3 separate regions of the Homo sapiens genome follow, and all the other regions are linked to region 3. Evidence: fine-mapped expression QTL. A gene starts in region 3. Each other region holds a variant in brackets. All regions are shown on one strand. Distances are from middle to middle. Region 1 overlaps KCNT1 (potassium sodium-activated channel subfamily T member 1). Region 2 overlaps LOC105376314 (a long non-coding RNA gene). Region 3 holds the start of FCN1 (ficolin 1).

Region 1 (4,131 bases), 870 kb before region 3:
TGCTGCCATTCCCTCCTCTCTGCCCGTCCTCTCCCCTTGGGGTAGCCCTGCCCTGGTCCCTGAGAAGGGAAAAGTCGGGGAGGCTGCTGGCCAGCCAGGTGGGGGCCATGCTGGTCCCTCTGCAGTGGGGGCTTTGGAGTTCCCACAGTGTGAGCACAGCTGCTGCCAGGGTGGCGGGGGCACAGGCTAGGACTTGGGGGCGACCAGGGCAGCTCCGGCCAGGAGACCAGCTCTGCTTCAGGCCTTTCGCACACGGCGGCAGGTCATTTGGTGCCAGCTCCTGTGTCCACACCTGCGGGATGGGACGGCCTGACACCTGCCCCTCACAGCTGTTTTGCTCTTTTCCCAAAACCCATGGTGGGGTCTTCCCCAGGCCTTTGGAGGAGGCCCAGGGGCCTCATGCTGAGGCTGTGCAGGGAGACACACCCTCCCCACCCTCGTGCCCACACACGCTTCTGGGGTGGCCGCATGGCAGGTGGCACAGGGAGTGGGTGGTGAGGGCAGCTCTAGTAGGTTCTTGGGACCCTGCCCCCCTGCCTGACTGGCTTTGTGACGAGCACCCAGTGGGACACCGAGAACAAGGGGCCACCAGCTCATTTCACTCCGGCAGGCACAGACTGGCCCCCAGGCCCCAGCTTCTCCCGCTGGGGTGCCCGGACCACACGCTTCTGAAGTAAGCAGAGCTCACTGGGCTGAGCCAGGCTGGGCTTTGTGTTTCTTGGGGCTGGGCTAGGGGGCGGGTGGGGATGCCAGGCCCCAGCTGCAGTGCCAGGGCCTGGGTTGTGGTCAGTCACATGGCACTGGTCCTGGCTGCCCAGGATGGTCGCAGAGGACTAGCTTCGCGTGTCCACGGTGCTTGGTGAAGGCTGGCAGCAGGTGTGCCTGAGGGCCTGGGGTGGGGCAGGGGCTGGCTTTGGCTCTTCTGGTGCATGTCCTGGGGCAGGGCCACCTCGCCCCTGGTCCCCAGGGCTACCTGACTCCTCCACCCAGACCCTCCGACCTTTACTCCAGGCCTCAGTGGTAGCTCTGCTCGCCCCCCAACCCGCTTCCTAACCCTGCAGGCCCCAGAGGCTTCCAGACCTCCTGGCTCTTGGCATCCACGGTCACTCCCGCCTGAATCCCCCACGCCAGGCCAGAGCTACCGCCACCCGAGCCTCAGTTTCCTTCTCTATAAACTGGGGATAACTAGTGCCTCCCCCCACGGCAGCTGTGAGGAAGGCGTGAAGAGGGGATTTGTGTGAGTATCGGGGCTGGGGTGCCTCCTCCCGCTGTGTGTGTGGGATGGGGGCTGCACGCTGGAGGGGCCCCAGGATGCTGCCCGCCCTCCCCGCAAAGGGTGTGACTCTTCCTGTTCTGCCTCTTGGCCTAGGCTCCGCTTGAATCTAAACATGGGGGTGCAGCTCCCCAGCCCCAGAACCCCGGCACCGTCACCCTCCCGGGCATGTAGGCCGAGCCCAGGAAATGCCTGCCGCGGGAGTCCTGTGAGCCCTCGCCCCCCAAGCCCGCTGTGGCCATGCCTGCCCTGGAGCTGCAGTGGGAGCCGCAGGAAGCTTTGGCGGGTGAGGGGAGCGGGCGACGCAGGCATCCCACTCATGAAGGCCGCTAGCTGCAGGTCCGAGCACCACAGTGCCCGGCAGAGCGAGGGTCTTCCATGAGCGCCATCGTGGGGAAAAGCACAGAGCCGGGAGAGGCCGACGCTTTACTTCTGTGGCTGCCCCAGGCCTGGCCCTGCCTCCGGGTGCAAGGGCATTGTGGCAAACAGGTCCCTCCCGAGCTAACACCCGTCCTGGCTCAGGAGGCCCTTCAAGCTCCTGGGTTACCCTGTAGGGAGGTGTGGCAGCGGGGGCAGGCTCTGAGCTCCCCTGAGGCTGCCAGGACCCCTGGGAGCACCCTGGC[C/A]CGGACTCTGCTGAGCACTGACGGGGCACAGCATGTTCTTGGAGGAAACGGGGTGTGGAGCGGCTCTGCTCGAGCCGAGCAGGAAGAATCCCCTCGTGGAGCCCCAGCTGGGGGACGAAGGTCACCATCCACCTGGCCTGGGCAGCCATAAAGCCTGCCTACTCCTCGTGGCTTGGAGTCCCCACCCCTGCATCCAGCCCAGGCTTCACCGAGCTCCTCCCGGGGCCCTGGCTCGGGACCCTCTGGGTGCTTCCTGAGAGCAGAGGAGCTTAGGGTCCTCAGACTGCTTGTGGGGCCGGCCACAGGGAAGGGCTGGCTGTAGGCCAGGGTGGCCCACCGGTCACATCAGAGCTCATCGTAAACAGCAAAGCAGGAGAAGCAGCACCAGGGTGAGCCCGAGAGCTGGGCAGTCGCCACTCTGCCTGGCGGCCAACAGCACCTTGACTAGCACAAGCCCCAGACCTCAGCCTCAGGCCCGTCCTCAACGCCCAGCCAGGGGACACTCTGTCGGCATGCGAGGCCTTGCCCAACAGGGCCGCCTGGGCTGACACCTGGGACGTGCTCTCACAGCTCCTGTCCACCTGCCTGGCCGGGATGGCGCAGCAAGGCTGCCGGCGGTGAAGGGTTGGCGAGCCCCGTTGTGCGGTGGTCGGCACCCGCCAGGGCAGAATTACCTTGCAAATATCCCAGGTTTACCCGATTCATGACATCACTGGCTGTTAAATTTGCTACGTCCTCTACAGAACACACAGAAAGAGGCACAGACAGAAAGAGAGAGAGAGAGAATATCAGCAAGCGAGGTGCGGGCGGCCGGCACAGTGGGCGGGTGCAGGGGCAGCTGCACGGGAGGCCGGCCACCAGAAGCGAGTCGGTCACCAGAAAGGCAGTTGCTCCTTCCTTGCCAAGCTCTGGGGGCAGGCAGCGGTCGCAGAGGCAGGCACCAGCTCTGGGGGTGGCCAGACCGGGCGGGATCATCCTCTGCCAGCAGTCACAGGGGACCACAAACATGAATGCTGGGCACCCCCCTCAGCCTCGTGAGCCCCACCTGAAAGGGCGTGAAGTCCCTCCCGGGACAGGGACACTGTGGGGATGGAGGGAAGCTTCAAGGCGGGGACAGGGGGACACCTTCCCCAGCGCCCACAGGGCTGGGGGCCGGGAAAGGTCTTCACAGGCCACCTGTTCCCCAAACCCTGGCCTCTGAGTCTCCTTCGGGCCCGCAGGCCAGCCCAGCCCAGTCACCCGTGAGCAGCTCCTGGGCCAGCCGTGAGCTCCTGACTCTGCTCAGGGGACTCAAGACCCCGACCCAGGTGACAGACGCAGGAAGCAGGGTTGGGAGACGGGGCACTCCGACGGGACAGAGGCAGCCCTGAGCATCAGGCAAGTCCCTGAGATGGAACAAAGGGAAGGTGGAGCCTCGACCCGGCTCAGGGGTGGGTGTCACTGGGTAGCGGCCCGGTGCTGGGGAGCTGGGGCCCATGGCTTCATCAACGGAGGTAGCATCTCTAGAGTGAGGGAGGGGATGAGCTTCTCTCCACGCCAGGCAGGGCATGTAGGGCCCCGAAGCCCAAGCACACTTCCCACCACAAGGCGCAGAGAGAGGGGGCTGCACGGATCTGTTGCTGAAGACGGACGCCGGGCTCCCTGAAGCGGCAGGAGGGGGCTGTGCCGTGGGAGTGGCAACAGGCCCATGGTGGACAGAGGCATGTCCTGGCATGGGCCTTTCCCCCAACTGTTCCCCCAAAGTCTCCCCCCTACCCTGGCTGCTGGGAGGGCTGGGGGCTCTGGGAGGGGGTCCCCACCAGTCTTGTTCTCTGCGAGAACTCAGGGACCCTGGGTATCCGCTGTCCAGCAGGCCTGGCTGCAGCTGGCTGGCCCAACTCTAGCTGATGCCCTCGACTTGGGGAGCCCAGCCTGGCCCTCTCCACCCCACAGCTGCCTCCCCTGGCCAAAGGGCTCAGCCAGCTCCTGTCTCTAATTTGGCAGAGAGGGAAACTGAGGCCCCAGAGCAGTGGAAGCGAGCACCTCCCTACGGGGCTCACACCAGGGATGCCCAAGGGTCCTGTGGCCTCCCAGCACCAGGGTGGGCCATGGCCACTTCCCTCCTCTGCACGGGGCCTCTGCTGGGCCGTGGTGGTGCCCACAGCTGGCCCCACAGTAGAGGCAGGCAGAGGGTGGCCAGAAAGGCTGACAGACAGACAGATGACAGACAGGAGGACGGCCCGGGCCCCGGGACGC
Region 2 (4,131 bases), 21 kb before region 3:
AGCCTTGCTGTTCCCTGCAGCTGGGGTGGGGTCCACCTTGCCTGGGGCCATCCTCATTCTGCTTGTCTGACGTTCTTTAGTATCTGTTAAGGCTTGTAGGGCCCCTTTCACGCCCAAATGTCCTGGTCATCCCAGTTCTAGAAAAGAAGACATTCGAACTAGTCTGAAAGATCAGACAGAGTTTTTTGTTTGTTTCTATTTTTTGCACCTGGTAATGAAAGTAATAAATTCTCACCGCATAAAATTTGGAAAGTAAGGAAAAAATAATGTAAAGCAGAAGAGAAAGCCACGCCAGCTTGCTAATATCTTGGAATGTTTATTTTCTGTCATTTTTCCTAGGCTTGTAATTATTGCACCTGGCCAGGGTCATCCTGAACACAGTCGTCACGCCTAACCATCTCTAGGCAAGGAGATGGGAAGGGCTTCGGTGGGCAAAGCTAAGGAGAAGGAAAGGGCTCGGTTGGAGGGAAGACTGGGCTCCGCTCCTGCCACTAGCTGCTGTGTGCTCTCTTGCCAGCTGCTCACCCTCTCTGAACCTTGTTCTTTGGCCTGCAGAACTGGCATGGGGCTGCCACAAGGACGATGAGCTACAAGCGACAGCAATGGGCTTCTGCACAGACGGCCCTGCAGAAACCTCTGAGATAGCACCCCCTGCGGTCCCCTGCCCACCACCACCCCACTTTGCTTTTCTTCCAATTGATCTCCACCTGACACAGTGCACGCCAATGCTGGTCTCCCTCTCCTTGACCCAGGGGGAGGTGGGGAAGCTCCTGAGAGGGAACCCGCTGTTGTGTTCAAGGCTGTGTTTCTGGGGCACATGAGGCCCGGGCTGGGTGAAGCTGTGAAGCTGTGCTGAATGGATGCAAGGCTTTCCAGGAAAGATGGCAAGGGCACGAGGACGGCTCAGGAGGAGCAGGAGGGTGCCAGCAGAGGAGCCCAAGGACAGGAGATCACAGAAGGCCCTGGCAGCCTGAGACGGGGGTGCTGTCCTCTTTGTAAGCTGCGCAGCTGCCTCGACCCCTGAGCAGGCACACAGCAGGTGCGGGTAGGGGTCCTTCCTCCTGGCACAGACAGCCCCACAGCCTATGGGGCAGCAGAGCCTCCACCCCGGACACTCCTGCTCCTGGATGCAGAGCGAGAGGTGGCTGCAGCCTTGCGGGATGTCGCGCGGAGGCTGACGGGAGCACGGTTCACTGAGAGAGAGAAGCCAGCAGGCCTCAGCCATGGAAGCCGGTGCCTGATTGGTGCCCAGCTGTGATTAGAGAGTCCTATTTCAATGTGGGCCCCTTAGGCTCATGTCCAGAGGCCTCTGACTCATGGAGAACTGTGCTCGGCACACCGTTTCTGGACCCTCTTGAAGGATTATCTGCTAGTCCTGGGGCCTGGGTACCATGTTCTGCATGGACAGCCAGGACTGGGATGGAGCCTGGACCAGCCCCCGGAGCAGCTGAGCATCTACCCATCGGTTCAAATAGAAGGACCCTGGATGTCTGCCTTGGATGGCCGGCCCAGCCCCCTGTGGGCTGATGGGAGCTCCTCTTTCCAGGGTTCTGGGCCTGTCTCCAGAGCTGGAAGCGCTGAGGACTCCCAGCCCTGGCCATGATGGATGACGAAGCCCACACCTGCCCACCCTGTCCATCCTCCTGTGGTGGATGCCCTTGTCTTCTCTCCGTGATACCGTGGGCTTCCCCTGGCAGAGCCCTCATCACAAAACTCTGATGTTTACTCATCTCCGCAGCAGGCCCCGGGGAGCATCTCGCAGGCGGCCACCCCGCCAGAGCCACCGTCCTCTCTCAGTGCTGGGTCACTGCATGCATTCAGGGCTGAGTCTCCACTCCCCACATCTGCCTTTAGAGTCAGAAAATCACCCACTGGCATTAACCAAGGCCCCCGAGTCAGTTCTAGGGCTGGAAGGACCTCCTGAGACCCACCTGTGCTCATTCACTTATCCGCTCATCACTCACTCATCCGCTCATCACTCACTCATCCACTCATCATTCATTCAGCAGTGGTTGTGGGTCAGTGACACACCCAGCCCCGAGCCAGATGCTGCAGGTACATAGCTCAGGAAAGTGATGCAATCCCTGAATGCCTGGCCTTGGTGTGCCGAGAGACAAGTGAAATTTTCCCAGGGCCACGGTGGGATTCAGAAGGTGCAGCGTGCCCTGCCAGGGGGAGATGGCAGAGGCATGACTGTCCGGGGCAGACAAGACAGAAGGATGAGTGGCAGTTAGTAGGAAAATACACGTGTCCAGGGCAGAGACTCTGGCCCTAGGAGGCCTGGGGGTGGCAGGGTGAGTGCCCAGGAGGGGGACGTGCCTGGCACTCACACAATGAGTCGGGCAGGGAACGCGGCTGGACCCAGAGGGCCTGGAGGCTGTGAGGAGGGTGATCTGCCCCTCTCTGTAACAGGACAGCCCAGGAGGGTCTGTGCTCAGGGGTGCCACATGCCCCTTATGCTCCATCTCACGGCTGGTGCCAGCAGACCTGGACTCTTCCAGCTTCCCCAAGCGGTGCGGGACTGCC[C/T]GGGATAGAGAAGCATGCAGCGACCTTCCAGGCTGCAGCAGCAGAGGGGTGGGGGTGGCTGGGCCTGCGTGGTGGCCGCAGGGGAGAGGGACGTGGATGGAGGTGAAATGGACAGGTGTGTGGATTGCAAGGCAGCCTGGATGTGGGTGTGGGGGGCGTCATGGTCTTCCCTGCCACTGCAGACGAGGCAGCAGGCTCCTGGGGAAGCTGGAAGAGGCAGAACTGGGCTGCTCTGTTCTGAGGGCTTCTGCCCAGAGTTCCAAGTTCCAGGAGCTTCTAGGGGCTGGGGCCTGCCTGCATAGTGAGGGGATGAGTCCAGGTCTGCGGCACATGGCCTCTGCCGTCGGCCTTGCTCTCAGTGCAGAGCCGGCCTCGTCCTCATTGTGTGGCTCAGGAGATGGAGGCCCAGAGAGGCGAGGCTGGCACCTGCACAGGCCAGCTGCATAACCCAGGTCCAATTCCAGGTCCCAGAGCCAGGCTGCATGTTGACCCACTGCCAGGGATGACGGGCAGACTGCTACTCCCAACAGTGCCTCAGCTTTGTCACCTGGAGGGCAGGAGGGCAACAGGACCTGCTTGGAAGCTGAGAGTCCACATGCCCAGCAGGCATCCCGCCCTCCTCCGCCTCTTGACAAAGCAGGCCGGTCATGCTTCTGACACCAGGGCCGTGAGGAACGGCGTCCCCCTCCCTGGGTCCGTAGGCCTTTGACAGGTGGGGATGCCTGTCCCTGCTGGGCCCCAGGTTTGTATTTGCAGCCACAGAGCAGAGCAGGGAAGAGCCAAACTGACCCACCAGGAACCTCAGCTCTTCCCTGTCTGGGTCCTGCCCTGACCACATCCGTCACTGTCAACACCGGGAGGAGAGTGTGCGGCAGCCCACGCTCCCTGATGGCAGCCTTCCCCAGAGAGCCAGGCCCACCCCACCGACCCCAGCCTGGGGTCTCTCAAAGGCTCTGGGCACTGCCTTGGCTGAAGCCAGTCCTGAGCTCCAACTTAGGGACAGAACCGGCCCACCTTGGTGGATGGGGCTTGGCAACCTCCCAGATTCCCGAACACCCCCATAGGCCCCTTTCAGCCTCAGGTTTGGAGAGGCAGAGGGGGAAAGGTCCCAGCTAGCCAGCCAGGGGCAGGGAGAAGGTGTGCTGGTCTGGTCAGTTACCTCCCTGACTTCCTCATCCATGTGGCAGCTGAAGCCTGTGACAGGAAGAGGCAAAACAAAAACCAAACCTGTCCCTAAAGGTTAAGCTTATTGGTCCTTACGTGGGGGTGTAAAGTGTTTTATTCAGGTAAGCTGACGCATCCTGTTAGCTGAGCTAAACCAGACAGAGCTGACTGGAGGAGGCAGGGCTGATTTGAAAGATGAACCTCCAGCCGAGAGCGCCTGTGAGGATGCTTGGGGGCATCAGGATCTTCCTCCTGCAAAGCTGCAGGTCCTCATGTGCCTGATGCTCTCCCACTAATGGTTAGCTCTGTGACCTCCTCCAGGTTGCCTCAGTTACCTCAAATGTAAAATGCAGAATGAAGTCCCCCCTCCCCACCGCAGATGGGACACAGGTGAAGAAAGGTGGTCCGGTGACCTGCCCCATCCCAGGTGGCTCTTACTGA
Region 3 (4,131 bases):
ATTAAGAGAAGATGAATGTTTTTCCTATATTTGGTATTCTAATCCACACATATAGAATATCCTTCTAATTATTTTAATCTTCTTTTAGGTCTTTCTGTTCCTATTTGATAGTTTTGTACACAGAAGACCAGCATGGATGTTGTTAGACTTATTCACAGTTATTTGAATTTGGTGTTGCTGATGCAAATTTTTTAAATTTCATTTTTAAATTCTTTGAGGCTAGTTTTTAGAAGCACAATTGATTTTTGCTAAACTTTTTATTCTGCTAGTTTATCTGTAGAAACTCTAGAATTTTCTACATCCTCAATCATGTCTTCTGAAAATAACAACTTTGTGTCTGCCTTTCCAATCTTTTTATGGTTTTGTTCTCTTGCCTACTGCACTGGACAGTGACATGCAATACAATGTTGACCACAGTGGTGATGACAAGCATCCTTATTTGTTCTCAGTCTCTGAGGATGGTTTTCCATTTTTCCTGTTAATTATGTTGTAACTTCTGTATCCACAGCTTCCAAAGACCTCTTTCTATATTCTGTTGTTTCTGTTGGTCCTTATACACATTGTCTTTTATTCCCATGAGCCTGGTTATCGTTGATTGTGTTTTAACATTTCATTTGAAAAAAATAAAACACTTTGCAGAAATAATGACCTGGGATGATGTCATTCTCCTTCAGAGAAGATTTTTGTTTCTTTCAGCAAGGAGCCTGGGGGCATGAGCAATAATTCCAGGAGTTGAGATTCCTTTCCTGGGACACTTAGATGTCTCAAAACCAGTTTGCAGCCCTTGTGAATGTTGGTTGTTGCTCACTCATCCTATTGCTAGGGTGCAGCCCTTCTGAAAGCCAACCCCAAACCCATACCTTTGGCAGGCCGTAGGCCCCAGTCTTTGACCTTCAGCTCTGCAAGATGGTGAAATCACTGCCCAACTTCTCACCTCTCTTTTGGAGATTGGCAAATCCCTGTGCAAAAAGAGGTCCCCACTACTAGTTTCACTTCTCTAAGATTTCTGTGGCTCCTGAGAGCTTGGCAAAGTAATCCTTTACTACATAGCTAGCTTGACGGTGCCTTCGAGCAAATCTCTTTTTAAAGGTTTTGTCTGTTTGTCCTTAATAGGATGCCCCCAAATACCTAAACTGCCATTGCCAGGAATCAAATGACTTTTGTTGATCCAATGTTAAGATATTTTAACTTGCCAGAATCTTGCATTCTTTCATACTCTTGGGAACATTGACTTGATATCTGAAGGTGGTGTTGACTTCTCACCTGAAATAAACCTATTGATGTTGCAAGGAAGAGGAGGTCCCCTCACACCCAGGGGGCAGCTGGCAAATGGAATTGAGGGGCACAGACCTGCTGGCTTTCTCCCTGTTCTGACCCAATCCCAGGTGAGTGCTGCTCCTGAATTGGATCCTCTCCAAGAAAGGAGGCCGCACCACTGACACCCAGACCTCTCCCGCCTGGGCCAGTAGCTCAGGGACACTAAGCGGTGTCTGAGGCAATGAAGCCTCCTGCCGTTGTCTCTCAACAGGCTGGAGCCAACACACACAAACACACACAGTCGAGAGTCGTTGTGGTGCCCAGAGAGCCTGGACACAAGGTCCTGTGTCTCCTGGATCCCCCACCCCTGGGCCGCCCCTCCACTTCTCTCCCACCTGGGGAGCCCTTGAGTTTGGAAACCCAGTCTACACACGCTGGCTCAGAGAAGTTGCAAACCACAAAACAACACCTCTCCCTGCTCCTTAGTCCTGCTACCATCTGACTCTCGTTAGTGACTATTTCTATACGTTCTAAAAATCCCGCACAAAGTGTCCACAGCGTGGCCTGGCTAAGCATGATTCACAGCACGAGATGCGGAGTAGGAACATGGCCTCAGGGATTTGGGGGAACAAGAGGCATCCCCACCTTCAGGTGAAATGAGCAATCCCAGTGATCTACAAGGCGTTAGACAGAATTGAGTCCAATGCCTGGCTCTTACTAGTGGAGTGACTTCAATTTCTCCAGCTGTAACTTTCAAATAATTTACTCCACCGAATGGGGCTGGTGCAAGATGATATGATGGAAATAGTATTTGGGACATAACAAGTGCTCAACATTTTTTTCCTCTCCATCCATGATAAGTGCCTGATGACGGACAAACCCTGAATTTTCTGGGAACAGATGAGGCAAGGAAGCGTCTTCAGCAAAACCTTCCTTATCCCCCAAGGTTAAGGTCAAGGTTTCCGAGTATTGCTTGGGGACAGCTGGGGAATGGAAAGGGGGTGTGGGGGCTGTGTTCTCCTTAAGCCACAAGCAAAGCCGATGCTTTCCAGCAGAGGAGTCTCAGGAGCTCTCTGGACTGGGAGCAGGGTGTCTTTGCTGGGGGAAGAGAGCCCAATGGGGTGGGCATCTTGCTGGAGCCTAGTGGAAGGAAACATCCTTTGAGATGACCTCATACCTCCTGTTGGTGCAACTAAGCAGCCCATAGGAAGTGGGTGTCCCCCAGGGAGTTGAGAAACTGTGGCACAAGGCGAGAGCTGGTTTCCTCTGCCCTGTTAGAGCTGGGGGACTCTTCAGAGTCAAAGGCCAGAGAGCATGGAGCTGAGTGGAGCCACCATGGCCCGGGGGCTCGCTGTCCTGCTAGTCTTGTTCCTGCATATCAAGAACCTGCCTGCCCAGGCTGCGGACACATGTCCAGGTGAGACAGACCTGGGTTTTCTGGTCCCTAAAAGCTGGTAACAACCCCACTCACTGACACTCGGGTGTCCCAGGCAAAACCTTTTATGCACATCTTCCTGTGAAGATGCCCAACAGATCTGTTTTATCCTCAGGCAAGGACATGGAGGCTCAGGGCAGCTGAGGCATTGCCCAGGGTCATGGAGGGATAGGGGAGGGATGTCACCAGGTCTGTCTGCCTCGAAAGCCCAGGATTTGCCCATTGGAGCTTCATAGGTGGGTCTGGAATCTGTCACTGAGAAGGAAGAAAATACTGTTGACTTTATCTTCTTACGGGCTTACCAGGGAGGCACTCTAAGACCCTCTAATACGGTGGCTGCCACACGGACTTGGGGGGTTTGTTAAAAAGGCAGATTTCTGGCTCTCCTCCAAGAGAGTCGGAATCAGTTGATAGGGACAAGGGTTTGAACGGTGGTAAGGTGTTTCCCTCACTGATTCAGGAGCAGGTGGTTCTGTGACGCTCAGCAAGAGACTGCTCCTAAGGACGGCCTGGTGCCCCTGGCTGATAACATATTTATGAAGGAAACATAAATAGTAAATTACAGCCTGCTCTAGTGGAAGGAGGACTGGAAACACAGAAAGGAAATACCCCAAAAATGGCAGTGCCATGTCTCCGGTGAGAGCACTGCTCCGTTCCATGGTCTCTAAGAGCGCCCTTAGCAGGGCGTGTAGATTTTGTAATGAACAAAATGAAAAATATTTTTTCAAAGAAGTAAACAACTTTGGTTTGGCTGCAGCTGTGCCACACCTGGCTCTGTGTCCTTGGACCCCACACTGCCCCTCTCCAGAGGACCTAGAAAGCCCCTTCCAGCCCAGTAATTCTACAACCACATTCCCAAGGTCTGGGAGGGAAAATGCTTTGTCAGCCCCAATTCCCCAAGTTTCTTAGAAATATTGATTGTCATTAGTTATTGAAAGTGCCCGCTGTTTATTAAGCTCTTTCTAAATGCCATAAATTACAATAAGAGATTTAAAATGCACATTCTTTAACCAAATCCTGGCCGCAACCTTGTTATTATCCCCGCTTGGCAGCCCAGGGCACAAAGCTCAGAGGAGTTAAGTTACTTGCTGCAGGACACACAGCACTGAGGAGATGGGGCTCCCCTAGGTCGGGGTGGCCTCCAAAGCCAGAGCTCTGCCCCCCATCACATCTCCGCCTCACCAGTGCCTGAGGGGTGAGGACAGACCAAGGCCCCAGCAGAGCAGAAAACCTCACTTCCCAGCCACTGTTGGGCCAGGCACTGAGTGGGCACCTGTGTTTCTCTGCAGAGGTGAAGGTGGTGGGCCTGGAGGGCTCTGACAAGCTCACCATTCTCCGAGGCTGCCCGGGGCTGCCCGGGGCCCCAGGGCCAAAGGGAGAGGCAGGTGTCATTGGAGAGAGAGGTAGGTGCGGGCCGGGTGGGGAGGCCAGGCATGGCA

Evidence for each region.
Region 1: its variant is fine-mapped to the expression of FCN1 in whole blood (GTEx, PIP 0.97).
Region 2: its variant is fine-mapped to the expression of FCN1 in whole blood (TOPMed, PIP above 0.99).

Annotation. Positions count from the first base shown.
Region 1 is chr9:135,786,602-135,790,732 of GRCh38, reverse strand. The region is part of intron 29 of KCNT1 (potassium sodium-activated channel subfamily T member 1); the gene reads right to left. It overlaps LOC107987140 (a long non-coding RNA gene), which reads left to right. Exons shown (of 3, transcript XR_007061851.1): 1 at 1-673; 2 at 1,062-1,237; 3 at 1,370-2,804. Among named protein-coding and RNA genes, the nearest start is that of KCNT1, 86 kb to the right of the region's middle. The variant C/A (reference allele first, on the strand shown) is at 1,897.
Region 2 is chr9:134,937,474-134,941,604 of GRCh38, reverse strand. It overlaps LOC105376314 (a long non-coding RNA gene), which reads right to left. Exons shown (of 4, transcript NR_188683.1): 3 at 1-137. LOC124902302 (a long non-coding RNA gene) reads left to right here. Exons shown (of 2, transcript XR_007061846.1): 2 at 340-4,131. Among named protein-coding and RNA genes, the nearest start is that of FCN1, 22 kb to the right of the region's middle. The variant C/T (reference allele first, on the strand shown) is at 2,527.
Region 3 is chr9:134,916,312-134,920,442 of GRCh38, reverse strand. It overlaps FCN1 (ficolin 1), which reads left to right and starts at 2,531. Exons shown (of 9, transcript NM_002003.5): 1 at 2,531-2,674; 2 at 3,982-4,095. The coding sequence starts at 2,572.